Regions from separate parts of the Homo sapiens genome. Here regions 1, 3 and 4 are each linked to region 2. Evidence: fine-mapped expression QTL. A gene starts in region 2. Each other region holds a variant in brackets. All regions are shown on one strand. Distances are between the middles of the regions.

Region 1 (5,154 bases), 230 kb before region 2:
TTCCACTTCTAGGTACATACCCTAAAGAACTGAAAGCAGGAACTCAAACAGGTACTTATACAAACATCAATGTTCAGAGCAGCATTAGTCACAATAGCCAAAGGTGGAAACCCAAATATCCAGCAAACAGATGAATGGGTAACAGATTAAGGACACAACATGATTCAGAAATTCATTCATTCAACTTGAAAATACTATGTAACATGAAATAAGCCAGACACAAAAAAGACTTATGATTCAACTTATGTGACCTACCTAGAATGGGCAAATTCAGAGATGGAAAGTAGACAGTGGTTATAAAGGATGAGGGGAGGGAAAATGAGGAGCTGTTGTTAAAGGGTACAAAGTTTCAGTTTCGTATGATGAAGAGGATTCTAGAGATAAATGGTGATGATGGTTGCGCAAGGATGTGAATGTACTTAATGCCACTGAACTGTACACTTAAAAATGGTTAAAACAGTAAATTTTTCATTATGTCTATTTTACCACAATAAAAAAAGTGGTGCAAAAAACTCTACAGGATAATCAAATAGATGTTTTCAACTGAGTTTCTACTAATTTTATCCACTCACTGGTTTTCAAGAGTTTAATGCCCTGAGTTCGCTCATCTTCTTCACCAATTCCATTTTCTTCCATAACATGGTTCTGAATTTCTTCATCCACATCCATGAGAGGTTTCAATTTCTCCAGAATTCGAGCAGTAAACTCAGGGACATGAGGCGATATGGTTGGTGTGGTATTTGGCAAAGATACATCTATCATGAATATGTAGGTCAGCACACTGCAAAATAAAATACTTAATAATAGGAAGAGGTGCCACATTATAAATAAAAATGAGGTTCAAAAGTTATGACCCAATCAAAGTAAACTGTCCCAAGACAATTCCTGGAGTGGGTCTTAGATTATGCCTGTGTGTAAAAGAAGCCTTATAATTAAGGGGTATTAACACTTAGGTGTTGTGACTGCTCATCTCTGGCTTCTGAGCACACTGCTGTCCTAGTTTACATTCAGAGTGTTTCATCTTGTTTCCCACGACACAATAGCAAACAATTTGAGAAAGACACCATGAAACCCACTGACAACATAACCAGCATGTATTATTACCTATTACAATTTAAAAAAAAACAAACAAAGAACTCGAGAGGTACACCACAGAGAAAACAGTACCTACCTTCCTATTCTTTCTCTGACATTTTTGTAAACCTGGGTGAGTTTGGGTTCCAAGTACTTCAGTAGTCTGTGCAATAGTTCAGGCACTCTCCATTCTTGCTGGGCAAGGCCACCTTGTAGTACATAAAGTCGACTAAAATTAAAGCATCGTAGTGTTATATTGGAGGCCCTTTCTGCCTTTACATATTGACAGTATGGACAGACAATATCTGTATTTCACTTAAAGCTTTTTCGTTTTTTCACTTAATAAATACTACAATATCCACAACTCAAAATAGCCTCTTTATGAAGATTTTATTTTTCCTATATCATTTTCTCTGTATTTGCATTTCATCCACACTACTAGAAAACTGAAAGAAATACTGACTTAAGAATACTCACTGACTAATATTTAAACATCACAATTCAAGTTTTCTCATTAATTAAGTGCTTCTTCTTTTTAATGAAATTATCCATATTACTATTGTCTAACTTTCTACAGCACCATATGCCCCAAACAAGGCAGTTTTTCCTTGAAATGATTACTCTTTCTTTGTATCTTTTTAACAGGAAAAAGTGAAAAATAAGATGTGATGAAGACACAAAAGTACAAAAGACAATTCTGATAAAATATTTGACAGCAAAGAATGCTGACTCTAATTTGTGTTTAAATTGCTCAGGTTGCCTACATCTCACTTACTTGTCCAACTAATAAATAACTCTTATTAAGTATCACATGTTATATGGAACCAGATCACATCACCTTCCAGAAGAAAGTAATTACTTCATCTAGACTTTACAAGTATAGACCATTCATTTCCATTTATACATAAGTTAACACAAAACCTTTCGTGTTAACCTCATAGGTTTTTTAAAAAAATTTACCATGCATCTACAAAGGATCCTCCTTCACCACTCAATGGTGATTCCAACAGCAGTTCAAAAAGCCAGTGAAGTTTCCGGGGATCTCTGCTTTCCTGTGTTTAAAATATGATGTAACAGTTCAACAGAGAACCTACAATTCTGTAAACAAATCATACTCAGTTATTTAATTTAATTTTATTTTTGAGGCTAGGTCTAACTCTGTTGCCCAGGCTGGAGTGAAGTGGTATGATTGCCTCCCAGGCTCAAGTAATCCACCCGCCTCGGTCTCTCAAGTAGCTGGGACCACAGGCATGCGCCACTATGCCTGGCTAATTTTTTATTTTTTGTAGAGACAGAGTCTCCCTACGTTGCCCAGGCTGGTCTCCAACTCCTGGCCCCAAGCTATCTTCCTGCCTCGGCCTCCCAAAGTTCTGCGATTAAAGTTGAGAGCTAGTGCACCCAGCCATATTCAATTATTTTAGAAATACTGAAAACATATATAAGTATAGTCG[T/C]CCCTTGGTATCTGTGGTGGATTGGTTCCAGAACTCCCTTAGGATACCAAAATCCACAGATGTTCAAGTCTGTTATGAAAATGGTGTAGTATTTACATATAACCTATGCACATCCTCCTGTACACTTTAAATCTTCTCTAGAGTATTTGTAATACCTAATACAATGTAAATGCTATGTAAATAGCTGTTATACTGTATTGTTTAGGGAATAATGACAAGAAAAAAAAAATCTGAACAGGTTCACTATAGACACAACCATCCCCCCACCCCCTTCTGAAATATTCTCCATCTCCTCAGGTTGGCTGAAACCACAGATGTGGAACTCATGGATATGGAGGGCTGACTGTACAGGAGAAGAAAATCAAACTAAAACTGATAGGTGACTCAAACTCAAATGTGACTATCGCAGTTCAAGTTAACAGTGAGAAAGCTGTTGTTAGCTAAATGGATTATCTTCAATCAAAGTACACGAGCTATGGACATATCTGGTATAAAAAATAATACCTATAACTTTGTATTATGTGGCTTTTACTATATGTAAGTGACATTTCCAAATACATGACTGTCACTTAATTTTAAAATGCATTACCACAGCAGAGAAGATATAATAATCACTTAAGAGTTACTTCTCAAGACTTATTTGAAAGGCTGAATAGAGCCATCTCCAATTACATAAGATGACAAAAGTATGAACAAACTTTCAAGATTCAAGAAGTGAGTTACCTCACTTAGAATAATAGTCTCTAATCCCATGGAAATAAAAAATAAAAACAATTAAAAAACAAAACCCAAAAAGATTTAAGAAGTGTTATGAGATTTCACACACTTTGAGAGACAGTATCAAACAGTTTGAATAGATCAGTTAGACAAAGAAAGATGTAGGGTAACTTACACAGGATGTTGCTATACAAGCTCCCCAGTCATTATAAGTTTCTACGGTAATATTGGACAGTGCTGTTCTAAGCAGAGGGCACAGAAGCTCCCAAAGCTTCTCCACCTACTCAAAACAAAATATATGGGTAAGAGTTAATGACACTCAGAACATTTTTCTTCAAATATCTTTCTTTACCTGGAAATGTACACACATACAGGTATATCATTTAAATTATTTTTGAGACATGGTCTCATGCTATTGCCCAGGCTGGAGTGCAGTGGAATGATCATACCTCGATGTAGCCTTAGGCTTCTGAGCTCAAGTGATCCACTCGCTTCAGCCTTCCAAGGAGCATGGACTATAGGTGTGTGCCACTATGCCCTGAAATATTTTTTATGTTTTGTAAAAACAGGATCTTGCTATGTTGCCCAGGCTGGTCTTGAACTCCTAGCCTCAAGCAATCCTCTCACCTTGGCCTCCCAAAGTGCTGGAATTATAGGCATGAGCTAGCATGCCTGGCCCTAATTATTTTTTAGAGCACCCAAATAATCCAGCAAAGTACATTATCACCATACATATCCAGGTATAGGTGAAATTTTTTCCCAAAAAATATTCAGAAAAGAGTAAATACTTTGCATGGCGCTTTAAAAAGTATCTCTTGGCTGGGTGCAGTGGCTCCTGCCTGTAATCCGAGAACTTTGGGAGGCCAAGGCAGGAGGATCACTTGAAATCAGGAGTTCAAGATCAAGCTGGTCACATGGCGAAACCATGTCTCTACAAAAAAAATAAAGATTAGCTGAGCGTAGTGGCACATGCCTGTAATCCCAACTACTCGGGAGGCTGAGGCAGGAGAATTGCTTGAACCTGGGAGGCAGAGGTTGCAGTGAGCCGAGATCATCCCACTGCATTCCAGCCTAAGCAACGGAGCAAGACTCCGTCTAAAAAAACAAAACAAAACAAATCTCTCATATGACTGATGTGTTCTTAAAAATCTTGTATAATAGTACGCTAGGCTGAAACAAAACCTCAATCAAGTTTTCCATGTTTATCAAGATCATTTGATTAAACCTTAAAGAGGCAATGACATTTTAATTTAATTTAGTAATCAGCCTGAGATATAATCTTCAAATTCCAAGTCTTGGATAAATAGCCCATAAAAACATGTACGTCGTACAGAGACTGCATTTACACACATAGATTTTCTCATAGGTTAATGAGCATACAAATCACCTTGAGGTCTTGATAAAATGCAGATTGATTCATGTCAAGTGGGCCTGAGATCTTACTTTCCTAAAAAGCTTCCAAGTGCTACCCCTGCTGCAGGTCCATGGACTGTATTTTAGTTAAAAAGGATATACCTTGATTTCATCATTACACATTGTGTGCATGTATCAAAATATCACATGTACCCCATAAACATGAACAGTTACTATTATTAATTTTTTAAGTTCCTAAAAAAATTTTGAATTTTTTTTTTTAAAAGAATGAATGAAGGCCAGGCACAGTAGCTCACACCTGTAATCCCAGCACTTTGGGAGGCCAAGGTAGGTGGAGTTCAAGAGCCAGGAGTTCGAGACCAGCCTGGCCACATGGAGAAACCCTGCCTCTATTAAAAATACAAAAATTAGCCTGACAAGGTGGCGCATGCCTGTAATCCCAGCTACTGAAGGTGGCTGAGGCATTGCTTGAACCCAGGGAGCAGAGGTTGCAGTGAGCAATGATCACACTACTGTACTCCAGCCTGGGCGATAGGGC
Region 2 (5,154 bases):
AACTTCAATTAAAAATATGTGGGAAGGAAGCTACATGCATAAATATTTTCTTTTTTATGGTAGTGAAAAATGAGAAGCAGCCTGAATATGTAACAACAGGGACTCACAGTAGGTAAATGTGTGGTTTATCCACCTAATGTGATTTATTAAAATATTCATTGGAAAGACTACAACATGGAAAAGAAGAATAAAAGTTGCATTCATACTATAATTACTTAAAACATATATTAGAAACATTTGCGTACATTTTCTAAAGACTTAGAATCACATATTATTGGCAATCCATGCCGAAATGGTACATAAAAATTTCCGTTTGCTAATGTTAGACTGCTGGCAGACACAGCAAATTTTTCAGCTAAGCAAATGTCAATTGTTGCTATAGCACTTCTAAAATTCAAATAAACCTACCTAATAATTGGCAGGGGTACTCTTGGGTAAATGTGGAGAAAAGTCAAAGATTAAGAAAAGGAAAATGTCAACCTTCCCAGTCAGTGACTACTTAGAAGCTATGCTATAGTTGTCCGTTGTTATCTGCAGGGGATTGGTTCCAGGAATCCCCTTGGATATAAAAATCCTGGAATGTTCAAGTTCCTAATAGAAACATACATACACATATTGTCCTGTATGTTTTAAGTCATCTCTAGATTATTTAAAATACCTAATGCGATGTAAATGCTATTATACTGTATTGTTCAGGGAATGATGACAAGAAACAAGAGTCTGCATGAGTTCAGTAGAGATGACTTTTTTTTTTTTTTTTGGAGACAGGGTCTCGCTCTGTCACCCAGGCTGGAGTGCAGTGGCCCCATCTCGGTTCACTGCAACCTCTGCCTCCTGGGCAAAAGTGATCCTACTCCCACCTCAGCCTCCCAAGTAGCTGGGACTACAGGCACAGGCCACCACAGCCAGGTAATTTTTGTATTTTTTATAGAGGCGGGGCTTCACTGTATTGTCCAGGCTGGTCATCTCTAACTCCTGGGCTCAAGCTGTTCGCCAGCCTTGGCCTCCCAACATGTTGGGATTACAGGTGTGAGCCACCGTGCAGGCCAAGATACTTAAAAAAAAAAATTCTGTTTGAGGTTGGTTGAATCTATGGATGCAGAACCTGCTAATATGGATGGCTGACTGTACTAGTGGGGAAGGCACACTAAATAACTAGGATAAAATCTGGTAACCACTCGCAGAGATGACTGAGCGGGATAGAGGAAGATTTTGGAGAAGGGGGAGGCATTCCAGATAGAGTAGACCCAAGAGAAGAGGTTCTTTGTTTTAAACCTCTGTACTGAGAGAGCAGAATAACCGAGAGTGTCTTGACTATAGTTTAAATGCAGGATTTGCATAAGCAGGTAGTGGAGGCTGAAGACCTTAGGTTCTATTTTGAACGTATTAAGAAGAATGATTTAAAATTTATGTTGATTCTAGAGTCTGCATGGAATGAACTGGGAGATGGAAGAGTTAAGTTACGAGGTCTCTGCAATAAACTAAGACCTTCACTACATAAATTAACTGCACTAGCATTTCCAGAATATATTTTACTTTAAAAATGATTTAACCATATTCTAACCAAGTTTTGGATGATTTTTGGTGTTCTCTAATAGAATTGGCACAGTATATTGAATCAGATTGCAGTGGATTATTTTAACTGTGTGGCCAGATGCAGAGAAATATGCCAAGGTATTGAGGCCAACAAATAGAGAAATGCAAATTCTCACAAGTAAACAGATTTGGAATTCTAGAAGGTGGCAGATTATCAATAGCTGTATCCAGATCCTTTGGAGTGGTGGATGGTTTTATATTAAAACTTGGTAATAGCTCACCAGGAAATAAAATTCAGCCTTAACCTTCTAGGCAATTGGGATGTTGCTGAGAATAATCAAGACAATCAAAAAAAAAAAAAAAAAAAAAGGTCGGGTGTGGTGGCTCACACCTGTAATCCCAGCACTTTGGGAGGCCGAGGCAGGTGGATCACCTGAGGTCAGGAGTTTGAGACTAGCCTGGACAACATGGTGAAACCCCGTCTCCACTAAAAATACAAAAATTAGCTGGGTGAGGTGGCGCATGCCTGTAATCCCAGCTACTTGGAAGGCTGAGGCAGGACAATTTCTTGAACCTGGGAGGTGGAGGCTGCTGTGAGCTGAGATTGCACTACTGCACTCCAGTCTGGGAGACAAGAGCGAAACTCCGTCTCAAAACAACAGCAACAAACCCACACCAAAAAAACTGTATGAACAGCAGACAAGATGACTACAGTGTTTTTCTTTTGTCTGTTTCCACTAGCATAAAAGACTTCATATTTTTAAAAAGTTTCTTATCCCAGAAAATATCACAATCCGTTTAGAATACGAGTTCAGGCTCAATTCCTTCCTGACTGTACAGAAGAGCTCAAGATGTTGCAGACCTTATCTTAAAAGCTGGCTTGGTAGTCACCTAAACATTTCATAAATAATTTACTAACTCTCAAAACACTAAACACGCAGGCCCTTGATTTCAAAAGCCAATCTTGCTGGGATGGAGTGGGGTGGGGGACCTGGGATGGGGGATGAAAGGGGTTGGAAATGGGGAGATATTGGTCAAAGGGTACAAAGTTTCAGTTAGTGTGAATAATAAGTTCTGAAGATCTGTTGTCTAACATGGTGACTGCGATAAATGTATTGTGTCCTTAAAAATTGATGAGAGTAGATCTTAAATGTTCTCTTCATTAAAAAATGGTGCAATGGATACGTTAATTTCATTGATGTAATCATTTCACAATGCATACATATGTCAAAACATCACCTTGTACACCACAAATATACCCAACTTTTATTTGTCAATTACACTTTAATAAAGCTGGGGGAAGCCACTCTTTTTTTGGGCACAGCATCCGGCTTTTATTTACTAACTTTGAGAACAGAGTACCTTGATCAATTAAATGGTAGGGAGCGCTGTGGAGACAGCATCCTCCCCAGTCCGGGAAGAGAGGCCTAGGATGCCTGGGGCCCAGCGGCCTCTTCCCTCCTGGCGTCCCCGGCTGCCCTCGCTCCCAGGCCCCGCAGTCTCATTTGCCGCTTCCGACGCGTGACCCCGGCGCGCTAGCGTCCGGGACCGGTGACAGGCGCGGGGTGCGCCAAGCAGTCCCATGTGTCCCCTCCCTCTCGCAGCCGCCGCAGTCGCTGCGCCCCGAGCCCCTCTCCGGCTCCTCAACAGAGGGCTCGCCGCCGCCATGTCTACCGCCCAGTCACTCAAATCCGTGGACTACGAGGTGTTCGGAAGAGTGCAGGGTAGGAGGCCCCTCTACGGTGGGAGATCAAAAAGGTTATGGGAGGAAGGGGAGAAAGCTGTGAGAAGCGCCTCCCACCTAAAGTATGCCTTTTCCCGTTGTGGCTGGGACTTCCGCTCCGCCATGACACAGCAGCGGCGGCGGGGAGGGAGGCGAAACGCGCATGCGCCCGAGGACTTGGACGGGCGGAAGTACGGGAATGGGGAGGGAAGTGGGGGAGCGGGAGAGGAGGGGTCAGGGGACTGCTGAGGACCAGAAGTGGGCGGCTGCTGGGTGCGGGAGTAAGCGGCACGGGGGAATGTTGAAGTTGGGTAGGAAAAGAAGAGGGTCTTTTAACTAGTGGTCTCGTTGCTTGCCACTGAAGCTACCTGGGCTTGACTTGAGTTTTAGGAAGGACACTTAGATGGTTTAAGGTTAATTTTTCAGAGGTCAAACCTTTTTTTAGACCTCTTTGTAGCTCTTAAAAGAATGAAATTGTTATCTAATTTTTGTTTCATCCTAAGTTTAAGTAGTTGCCAAGTTTGTAATGTCTGGCTTGTTGAAAATATTGATATTTATAAATGAAAATATTAAGTCACTCTGAGATTTATGCAATGGAATATAAATAGGGTAGTGATTTAACATCCACCATCTTCATTTAAAATAAAACTCTTCAACAATGGGAAATTTTACTCATTTCTTTTCCTCTTTGAATTTGATTTTCATTTCACTTTTCCCACCGAATTACCCCATTGTTTTGCTTGAGGGTTTTTTTTTTTTTTTTGCTCACCCTATCATACTTTTCTGCAATATGTATATGTACATATATGCACATGTATGAATAAGTGTAATGCTTTTTCTTAATTTCCTTTGACAATAAGGCTCTCTTAGAAACAAATGCTGGTTCTTTGGTGCCAAAAAGAAGAACTAGCGCTCAAAGAATTTTCTCAGCAAGGCAATTTTACCTCTATAGAAGGGTGCGACTCGCGGATGAAGCAATGGCAACGGCACACCTGAACAGGGGAGGGGAAGGGGTTCTTATTCCTGATGCAGGTAGCCTCTACTGCTGTGTCTTTCCCCTACTGGCTAGGGTTGGACCGCACAGTCTAAGCTAATTCCGACTGGCTATTTTAAAGAGCAGGCGTACGAGCTCAAGTGGCGGGGTGAATAATTTGGCAGGAAGGGTGGTTACAGAACAGGTGACTCAGGATGATTCAGGTCAGAGCAGGTGACCAGGGGTGACTCAGGATGGAGCAGGTGACCAGAGGAATAGAGGTGAACTACTGATTAGAACTGGTGGAAAAGGTTGTTTACTGAAACTAGAGGCGAGGAGAACGAGGAAGCTAGACTTTAGAGCGCAAAGAACCGAGCATACTGACATACTGATTCTTTGAAGAGAAATTTAGAACTCATTGTATTCAACAGCTCCAAGTATTAAATTTTTTGTCTGGATGGAGTTATTATTGAAATTATTATTAGAACACTAGATGAAAATATAAAAAGTATGATAAACATTATTAAAATTTAAAGGTAAATTTGTGTTAGAAGTTTATTTTTTTAATTTTATTTTTTTAAGAGATGGAGTCTTGCTCTGTCACCCAGACTGGAGCAAGTGCAATGGCACAATCATAGCTCACTGCAGCCTGGAACTCCTGGGCTCAAGTGATCTTCTGCCTCAGCCTTCTAAGCAGCTGGGACTACAGGCTCATGCCACCATGCATGACTAATTTTTAAAATTTTTTTGTAGAGAAAGGGTCTCTGTTGCCCAGGCAAGTCTCGAAATCCTGGCTTCAAGGGATCCTCCTGCACTTCGCCTCCCAAAGTGATGGGATTACAGGCGTGAGCCACTGCACTCAGCCAGAAATTTATTAATGAGAAGACTGGGGGTGTTTATGGAACCTCGGTTGGTGGAAGAG
Region 3 (5,154 bases), 55 kb before region 2:
TTACTGTTTTATATATATATGTGTGTATATATATGTTGTTAGCAAAAATATATATAATACTGTTGTTTATAGGATACTGAATATTTGGCAGTTTGTAAGGTGAATGTGGGAATTACTCAAATGAGGAGTCAAAGCAGGGAAGGCCCTGGGTGATGTAATGAGGTCACCATTTGAGAGGGGATTGAGTGGCTAAGGCAGAGCAGAGGAAGAGAGGCTTTTGATTTGGTTATTAAATGCCAAACAGATGTGGTGTAGTAAATGTAAAGAATCAATGAACATTTGGAAAACAAATATTTTAAATTCATATTTCATGCTTTGGGATATTCACTTATCACACATAGAAAATAGGAGAAAATATTTTTCCCTTTGTGAATAATGCTTTGAAAATTCAAGTATTGGTCCCTGAGGGAGGTAGGGCATATGAAGCAATGATTGGTCTCTTCCTAAATTTAGTAAATATTGGGTCTTTGAAGATAATTCACATTAAATGGAGTGTTGGTGTTAACGCATGATACAAGCTAAAATGTGAATAAGCTCTGGACTTATTCTCATTGGTTCTTTTTGGGGGCAGGGTTATCAGTTTGTTTTATCAAAGTAGTACAAAGCTATATACAATATTAAATAGTACTACAAAGCTTATATTAAAAAAAAAAAAAGCAGTACCTTCTCCCTCCCCTCAGCTGTGCTTCCCAGGGGCTTTTAAATCTTCAGTAGTTTTTCCTGATATAAAATGCCTATCATTATACACCTATGTCTTCATTTACAAATTTTAGATATTATCTATTAACCCCTGACACACACATATTTCCCTCTCCTGTCATTCTAATATAATTCTAACTTCATTTCTAGTTAATTCAATATCGAGTATTTACATTATGATGTCAGTGTTGGTCATTGGTAACCCAAGTATTGTACTTTGACTACTTATCCTTCATTGTACCACCTGTAAGAGTTAAAGAAAGAGGAAAGAAACACAAAATGTGGCTTGGCAGTTAAGACAGGTTTACTTTAGATAAAACATGAGAGGGGCTTCTGGCTGATAATTTTTTTTTTTTTTTTTTTGGTCAGGAGCACTTTCTCTTACAGACTATATATTGGAGTATATATTGGTCTTAGGGTGAAGGGGCTTATTATAAGCTTGGAATGTTTCTGTGTGAGGGAGAAGTTTTATGGTGGGGTTGGAATGTCTCTGGGAGGAGGGATGTTTATCTTGGGGCAGACATCTTTCCACCCAGATGGGGGTTATCTCAAGGCTGGTATCTTCCCCACTGGAGGTGGGTTATCTCATGGCTAGCATGTCTCTGGTCACGGAGGGGTTTGGAAAGTTTCTGGTTGGAGATGTTATTTGTGGTTTATGGTCATGCTGGCCTAAGCCATTAGGCTGATGCCCTTTGGATTTAGGCAGTTTTTTATTAAGGTGAACTTTAGAATGAGGGGTTTGTCCAAGATGGTGATGTTCCTGCTGTATCACAACCTTTTGTTTTCTTTCTTTTGAGTTAAGAATTGCCTAGCTTTCCATCTTATCATTTTTCTTTCTTTCTTTCTTTTTCTTTTTCTTTTTTTTCTTTTGAGTTGGAATTTTGCTCTTGTTGCCCGGGCTGGAGTGCAATGGCTCAATCTTGGCCCACTGCAACCTCCACCTCCCAGGTTCAAGTGATTCTCCTGACTCAGCCTCTGGAAAAGCTGGGATTACAGGCGCCTGCAACCATGCCTGGCTAATTTTTTGTATTTTTAGTAGAGATAGGGTTTCACCATGTTGGCCAGGCTGGTCGTGACCTCAGGTGATCCACCCTTTTTGGCCTCCCAAAGTGCTGGGATTACAGGTGTCAGCCACCATGCACGGCGAGCATCTTATTATTTTTCTATCAATTCAACCAAATGTTTCGTTAGATTTTCAGATGCTGACTAATACTACATTCAACATTTCAGATAATCTATTTGTGGTCTCTGTCTTCCTGATCCTGTCTGGACTGGTTGCTGTCTTGATTGTCATCCCAGGACATTCCCTGTTTTCCATCTTCCATTTCTTTTGTTTTGTTTTATTTTGGTTAGGTCACTCCATTGGTAACAATTGTGCTGGGACTCATCCTTCAGTAGGGTGAGCAAGAGTGCATGGATGCCTTGTATGTTTACCTGCACAGTTGTTTGTTACTTAAGGATATGAATAGAGTTCTAGGATGAAAATAACTTCCTGTTAGAACTGGGAAAGGATTGCTTCATTGTCTTCTGAACTCAGTTGCTACCAGCAAGTTTGATGCCCATTCTGATTCCACATTCTTTTAATGTGCTTGCCTCCCATCCCCAGTCCTCTAGCAATTCCAAGTTTTTTCTTAGTTTCCTGAAATTCCATACTGTGACTTGGTGTAAGTCTTTTTTAATTCATTGGGCTGAGCACTTAATGGGACCTTCCAATCTGAAATTGTATGTCTAAATTGAATTACTTCAACTCTGGGATATTTTCTTCTTGGATTTATTTGAGGATTTCTTCCCATCAGTTTATTCATCTCTCTGTTTTCTTTTTCTGAAAATCCTATGAGTCAGATGTTGCACATCCTGGAATGAATATTTAAGCATCTTATTTTTTTCTCTCTTTTTGGCTATCTTTTTTATCTTTTGAGTTTACTTTCTAGATTCGTTTGCTTTTATCTTCTAATACTTTTATTGACTTTTTTTGTTTCATGGCCATATTTTTAATTTCTATAAACTTATTCTTGTTCTGATTATTCCTTTTTAAAAAATAATCATCTTCTTTTATGGATATAATGTTTTTTGATCTCTCCAATGATTCAATTATAATTTTAGTAAAGTTTTGTTTTGTTCCTTTTACTGTCTTTGTTTCTTCTGGGATTTATTGTTGAGGTTGGAGGCTTTCCTCAAATATCTTATAATCTTAGTTATCTATTTCTACTTTTAATAACCTAATTTATTAATTTTCTGCAGAGGTAAGTAGGTTC[T/A]ACTAATTTATTTGCCCAAATACATTTTATTTTGGTATGATAGAATTTTATCAGATTCTCTAGCCACCCATGTGTAGTCATAAGGCATGAAATGCTGCTTTTTATGCACAGGATGTTCTCAAATGCTTCTAAGTCCTCAGCCTTTTTGAATGCCTGCAGAGTAAAGTGCTTGGCTGCTTCTTGGGATCCACTGCTTTGAAAACAGATTTTAGCTTCTTTTGCTTGGTAACGTTATTTACCATTCTTTCATTTGTATCCTAGCTTTCAAATACTTGTTTTTTTTTGTCTGCTGATATTCATTTCCTACCTGCCCTTATGTTTTATACCATTTTTAGATGAAATTTCAGAAAAAAAGAGAAGACAAACACATTTAATTTATCTGCCATATATATTTTAATTAATTAATTATTTTTTCATAGAGGCATGGTCTCCCTATATTACCCAGGCTTGGTCTTGAACTTGTGGGCTCAAGTGATCCTCATGCCTTGGCCTCCCAAAGTGCTGGGATTACAGGCACAAGCCACCATGTCTGGCCAATCTGCCATATTTAGCTGGAAGTTCCTTATTGGTTTTTTATTTTGGCAATCCAACTTTTGGATATGAAGATGACTTTTATGTCTTAGAAATATTACATTATTAAAAATATGTTGGTTTTGACTTGCTGGGGTTATTTTCCTCCTTCCTGGTAAAAACACTTAATTCATTACTTTGAGCAAACTTCCCCTTCCCCAATTTGTGTGGTTCTGGTGGGGCTGCCCACCAGACATCAGCCCTCTGACCACAGAGGTGGACACGTGCTCTAATCTGGAAAATTAGTTTCACTCTCATGGGAGTATGACTCCTGAACAGAGACTAAAGTTGCTGATGATGTTGTTTTCTTACTGGTGAACCTTAGAGGGCTGGTCTATAATTGTACCAGCCTGGGTCCTTTGTTGGACATACTAGAAACCAACTCTGATTGGCTTTAGCATAAAAGGGTTTTAATGGGAGCCTATTGGTTAGTTCATGAAATTTATGAGAAGGTTTTAGAATCAGGCTTAGAAAATAATCAGTTACCATGCATGTTAGTTTCCTACAGCTGCTGTAACAAATGGCCACAAGCAGAGTGATGTAATACAACACATTTATTTTCTTATAATTCTGGATGTCAGAACTATAAAATCAAGGTCTGGTCTGGACATGGTGGCTCAAGGCTGTAGTCCCGTCATTTTGAGAGGGCAAGGTGGGAGGATTGCTTGAGCCCAAGAGTTTGTGACTACCCTAGGCAACGTAATGAGACCCTGCCTCTATAAAAAATAAAAACTTAACAGGGCGCAGATTACAGATGTGAACAACTGTGCCAGGCCTGTAAATGTATTTTATTAATATCTTACATAGTTAGATCATTATATTGGCTTTAAAGTGTTTTGCGTAAGTTGCATTGCCTCTGAATTCCATTTCAGGAAAGTAAAGGAGATATTACAAACTATTGTTATTAAAAGGGGGCATTGGGTCTCATAGAGCTCTAGCCAGAAAAAATAAGCACATTCCACAAGGCTTGAGGGAGTAACATCTGGGGGTTACAGAGTCTGTTTCTCACAGGAAGGCATGGGTTCTCTGGACCTGGGGTAGAGCTTGGGCTTGAACGACTCCCTTGCTACGGCTCAGGGGCTTCTCTAAACATCTCCTATTTGCCCTCAACATTACTTTGAGTCTGACCTCCCCAATCATACACCTGTTTTTATCTGGTAGATTATTTTGTAAGTGACCTCACATACCAGCCATCTCTATTCAGCCTCCATCTCATTTCCACTGTGACATTGAAAATAAGTATTTTTAGTTGCTGAGACCAGATCAACCTATATAGAAAAATAAATCTGGTTCCACTTTTACTTCCTATATAGGATATCATTAACATATTTTCCATATGAATAGGGACTGTCATGTACCATATGTTATTCATCATATGGCATCATGCCTGTTTCAAGGCACATTTTAATATAGCACAAAGGCAAAGAGTTTTAAACTGGAATGTCTGCTGTGCATTATGGTTTAGACTTTCTGGTTATCATGAAGCCTGATTAAGTTAGCTTTCTACATGTATACCATAGAATGAGCTCTCAACAAATTACCTAGAAAAGTTAACTTAGCAAGATAAATTTTGGGCAAAATAAAAGTAAACTCGTAGAATTTTAGCTCACTTTAGGCAAGGTCACAGAGA
Region 4 (5,154 bases), 430 kb before region 2:
ACAGCCACTAAGAAGCAAGTCCAAAGAAATATATGTGGTATGGAAAGACTACCTTATAAAAAGATGAGGATTATGGCAAGTGACTCTTTCTCGATCTGCATCTGCTAATTCTTTGTCTCCTCCAGATGAATTCTGCACCAACTATGAATCTCTATCCAAAAAACATGAACCATGTTACAAAGAATTTTCCCCAAAATCACACACTCTAGAGCAGATCACACATTTAACCTGGAGAAAGGGCATTGGCTGACATTTCACACAATCTAGTCCTTCTTTATGTAAGAAATGGTGGGTCTTAAAATTCCACAATCTCCAATAGATACAAATGATCTGTTCTTAGAAGCTTCATCCAGTGCCTTGGGCTGATCCTGTATGGAACTGTCACATGGGAACTCCCTTAAAAAGGGTCATGACAGATAGAAGAGGCAAGAGGGATGCAGAAGTGAGGTTCTGGTGCTACCTTTACAATAGCCTTTTTAAAGCCGCGTTATTATCACATGATTCTGCTCCCCTTCCCTTTCTGAAGTATCATGGAAGAAGCCTCTTGAAGTGCTACTCTCTATAGCTTCCTTTGATCATCTTGAGAACCAACAGGAAACTTGGGCAAAATGAGAGCTCTCGTGATTGGGTCAGTTCTACTTCTGGATGGTTATTTTAATTTTTAAGGTTCTAAATTCTGTAATTCAGGCCAACCATGAAAGACAAATCATAGAGAAAATAAAAGTATATCTCATTTTCAAACCAAGGACCATGAACTCTGCATTAACCCCTTAACAATTTTTCACCCACTGCCCCCAACACCCTCCTCAGAGCCACGGTTTTGTGCCTTTTATATATTGGTCACCTTTAATTTTTTCATGTTCAAGGGAGCTGTCATCTAAGCAGCTACAAGAAACCTTTCCTTCTAATCTTGTTCAGTTCCCTAAGAAGCTAGATGATATTTAACACTAGCTTTTTCATAATACTTATTTTAGACAGGAACCTAGTAAATATCCTACAGTGAATAAATAAAGTAGTTATGTGGAAAGAGTGGGACGGGCTTTCAAACCAATACTGGTGATCTCATACTTAGAACATGTAAAAAAAAACACCTCTGTTTACTCTAAGGCCATAATTTCTCCTTATTTATTTATTTATTTATTTTCTGAGAGAGACAGAGTTTCATTCTTGTTGCCCGGGCTGGAGTGCAATGGCACAATCTCGGCTCACTGCAACCTCCACCTCCTGCAGGAGAATCAAGCGATTCTCCTGCCTCAGCCTCCCGAGTAGCTGGGATTACAGGCGCTTGCCACCACACCCGGCTAATTTTGTATTTTCAGTAGAGACAGGTTTCTCCATGTTTGTCAGGCTGGTCTCGAACTCCCAACCTCAGGTGATCCGCCTGCCTTGGCCTCCCAAAGTACTGGGATTACAGGCATGAGCCATGGCGCCTGGCCAATTGCTCCTTTCTTAACGTACCAACAGACATGCTGATAACTTTAAAATAGTTTTAACAGCAAAATGTCCCAGCAAATGTGAGTACAACCCATTAGTATCTAGTTTAATAAGAATTTCCCCACAAAAACAAAACCCAAAAAACTTGGATTAACAAGAGGCTATGTGAAGTTAAAATTGTAAGTGGGCAGTTGGAACCCTGTTAAAATGTCAAGTTTAACTATAAATTTCTCGCTAAAAAAAAAACAAAAACAAAAACAAAAATCCCAGTCTGGCTCTTAAATCTAGAAATAAGGTAGAATGTAGGCAATGTTAACCAAGGCACGAATCTGCTAAACTTGTGAAGGTCCACACATGGCTGGTGTCTGGGAGGTTGAAAGTTTCCAGCTCAACAAATGAAAGGTCATGTGTCCAGTTTTTTAAGATAACAGGCAATTACTGATTGAGATCTTAGTAATACTGCCTCACCCAGGTGAAAAACATCCAGAGGAAATGAATCTAGAGTTAAGAACTACTGTGAAGAATGGGCTCTGATTCTCACTAAATATTTAGCTTTATTAACTCTATGATCATGGCCCCCATGATAGACAAACTGCACAGTTTAACCCATATATTTTAAAAGGCCCACTACTGCCCCACTTCCCACCAAACTTAGTTTATTGAACATGTCCTTTAAAAACTGTAAGTTAGGGCTTTGCATATTAATGTTTAAAATAAGGAGCAAGTGGTGAGTTATTGCACCATAGATCACTCATATAAATACTCTTACCAAGTATATACTGCTCCATTATTTGTAGCTCTTTTTTTATCTTTTAAGAGACAGGATCAGGCTCTGTCATCCAGGCTGGAGTACAATGGCATGAACACGGCTCACTGCAGCCTTGATCTCCTGGGCTCAAGCGATCCTCCTGCCTATGCCTCCCCCAAGCAGCTGGGACTACAGTCATTCACCACCATGTCTGGCTAATTTTCTTATTTTATTTTGTAGAGATGGGGTCTTGCCATGTTGCCCAACTGGTCTTGAACTCCTGGCCTCAAGCAATCCTCCCACCTCGGCCTCTCAAAGTGGGATTACAGGCGTAAGCCACCACGCCTGGCCTATTTGTTGTTTTTATTGACCTTTCCTTGGTCACTGACTCTGGGATAGGATCTGGTT[G/T]TAAGTTAACTTGGCTATAGGCTAGGTTATGCTATGCTAACAAATAAACCCGAAAAACCAGTGTCTTAATACAACACAGGTTTACTTCTTGCTCATGCAAAATCCTCTGCAGGTCAGGCAATTCTCCTAAAATGACACTTGAGTGTCCCAGGTGTCAACCATCCTGTGTAACCACCATCTCAAACATGAGCTTTCAAATTGCTTCAGCAAGGAAAGGGAGAGCAAAGAGTGCTTACATGCAATGGTTTATGCTTTGACCACTTGCCTCAATCATGTAACAATCAAAGCTGAAAAATCCAGTCTTTCTTTGTTCCAGGGAAGATAAAAATGAAACGGAACTCAGTTAACTGAGGTCTGTCTTTGCCACAATGACAAGATCTATTGTGAAAATGATATGAGGTAGCTACTATTACCATCTCTTCTTATAATTGAGGAAACCAAAGCTCAGGGATATAAGTAACTTCTCCATAGCTAGAAAGTGATGGAGGCTCTCAGCAAACTAACACAGGAACAGAAAACCAAACACTGCATTTTCTCACTCATAAGTGGGAGTTGAACAATGAGAACACATGCACACAGGGAGGGGAACATCACACACTGGGGCCTGTTGGGAGGTGGGGGGCTAGGGGAGGGATAGCATTAGGAGAAATACCTAATGTAGAAGATGCGTTGATGGGTGCAGCAAACCACCAGAGCACGTGTATACCTACATAACACACCTGCACGTCCTGCACATGTATCCCAGAACTTAAAGTGTAAGAAAAAAAAAAGAAAAAGGATTTGTGGTACACAATTATCCCTCTAGGACCATATAAACCAGATTACAATGGCCTAAAATAAATTGATCTAAATTTTTTTTAAAATTTTAGCCAGTAAATTTTAAATATGTCATAAATCCTTTATTTCCATGAAATTTTAAAGAGGGTCTAGTGCTATATTAAGAGTTAAAAAAGATAAATCATGTCAAGTTTAAAATGAATAAATTTGGGTAGTCAAAGGAAAAAAAAAAGAGAAAGTGATGGAGGCATGTCTATTTAATTCTAGAGCTTCAACCTTTAACCATTATATTCTGTCTGCTGTTCATGCAGAACCTGCACCAGAGCATTACCATAAGGTTGAAGTCAGCAGAAAAGTTAAAATTTTTCTTTGGCATAAAATAAGGTTGTGTTCCAACTCTCATCTTTTAACAAGTGACTTAATGATATGTTATAAACTGAGCAAGATACATGTTCTTGCTAAAGAAAACAGAAAAACAAATATTCTTTTAAAAACTAATAGGTTTTATTATCCTAAACTAGAAATGGCTTTAGCAGACAACTGGAATGCTAGTTCATTATTATCAGAAAGGATTACAGACCAATGATTCCTAACCCTAAGCTTTGTTTCTGCATCTAACAATCTCATAAAATAAATTATCATATGTAGTTACCTTGGTGTACTTACCACAGATGATTTATCTTGAAGGGCATGTGAGAAAAGAACATTGCTCAAAACTAGGGCATTGCTCAAAGTTTCAAGGGAAATTTTTGCTTAAACTGGATACTTGCTTAGCCCACCATATTTAGCTAGGAATCCTCATAATGTTCCTGGAGTACTTACCCTACCACAGATCAACCTTCATTTTTCATTTTTCTTTTGCTTCTACTTTGAAGATCAACTGTTACTTAAACATATGTTCTCAATCCAATTTGCAATACAAAATATCTGCACTCTGATACTTCTTAGGTAGTATAACTTTGAACTCATTGCTATGTACTACTACTAAAAACTAAGCTGAAGCTAGGCACAGTGTCTCATGCCTATAATACCAGCACTTTGGGAGGCTGAGGTGGAAGGATCACTTGAGCCCAGGAGGAGTTCAAGAGCAGCCCGGGTAACATGGCGAAACCCTGTCTCAACAAAAAATACAAAAATTAGCTGGGCATGGTGCCACATGGCTATGATCCCAGCTACTCGGGAGGCTGAGGTGGGAAGATTGCTTGAGCCCAGGAGGTAGAGGCTGCAGTGAGCCATGATCATGCCACTGCACTCCAGCCTGGTCAACAGAACAAGACCCTGTCCCCCCAAATAAATAAATAAATTAATTAATTAATTAATTAAATTAAAAACTGAGTTGAGACATACAATATTTAGAGAGAACTGCTCAAAAGGCACACAGGCCATCCATTTACAGATATTCTAAAATCTAGCTCTTGGTCAAGTCATAGCAACAGAAGTCTAGGTACCTGAACCACACTGTAATGACTACGTAGGAACTGCTTTTACTGAATTGTACTTTGGTATGATAACAACAGTCCATGTAAAAGAAAGTCCCAAGAAACCACAGCTACCAAGACATTGTCTAGGAAGCTGTAACAGCATCCAAGAAAATCTATTCTGAGGAATGGGTTTATTTTATCTTATGAACCCAGTCACCTAGTGTCATTGACAACAGAGCTCAGAGCCAAATGTACAGCCTATCAACAGACAAGTATCAAATTCCCATTGCTACGCTTTCCCTGACTCCATTTTTTATCCATCTCCTACCTTTTTTTTTTCGTTTTTCTTTTCCTTCTACTTTTAAT

Direction of the effects. Positions count from the first base shown, and alleles are read on the strand shown. Sizes are in standard deviations (SD) of each study's normalised expression. Not every link is listed here.
As copies of C replace T in region 1, the expression in fibroblasts of the gene that starts at base 3,119 in region 2 goes down (small effect, 0.20 SD a copy in GTEx).

The links. PIP is the estimated chance that this variant, and not a neighbour inherited with it, causes the effect.
Region 1: its variant is the best candidate, but not a certain one, in a credible set for the expression of ACYP2 in fibroblasts (GTEx, PIP 0.65).
Region 3: its variant is the best candidate, but not a certain one, in a credible set for the expression of ACYP2 in fibroblasts (GTEx, PIP 0.75).
Region 4: its variant is the best candidate, but not a certain one, in a credible set for the expression of ACYP2 in stomach (GTEx, PIP 0.66).

Annotation. Positions count from the first base shown.
Region 1 is chr2:53,886,687-53,891,840 of GRCh38, forward strand. It overlaps PSME4 (proteasome activator subunit 4), which reads right to left. Exons shown (of 47, transcript NM_014614.3): 37 at 3,418-3,522; 38 at 2,035-2,126; 39 at 1,172-1,303; 40 at 573-781. Among named protein-coding and RNA genes, the nearest start is that of GPR75-ASB3, 29 kb to the left of the region's middle. The variant T/C (reference allele first, on the strand shown) is at 2,526.
Region 2 is chr2:54,112,497-54,117,650 of GRCh38, forward strand. ACYP2 (acylphosphatase 2) reads left to right here and starts at 3,119. Exons shown (of 4, transcript NM_138448.4): 1 at 3,119-3,260. The coding sequence starts at 3,203. RefSeq lists silencers at 2,948-3,017, 3,508-3,567.
Region 3 is chr2:54,057,667-54,062,820 of GRCh38, forward strand. It overlaps a transcript of ACYP2 not described here. Among named protein-coding and RNA genes, the nearest start is that of ACYP2, 55 kb to the right of the region's middle. The variant T/A (reference allele first, on the strand shown) is at 2,955.
Region 4 is chr2:53,685,584-53,690,737 of GRCh38, forward strand. The region is part of intron 9 of ASB3 (ankyrin repeat and SOCS box containing 3); the gene reads right to left. The region is part of intron 9 of GPR75-ASB3 (GPR75-ASB3 readthrough); the gene reads right to left. Among named protein-coding and RNA genes, the nearest start is that of CHAC2, 80 kb to the right of the region's middle. The variant G/T (reference allele first, on the strand shown) is at 2,591.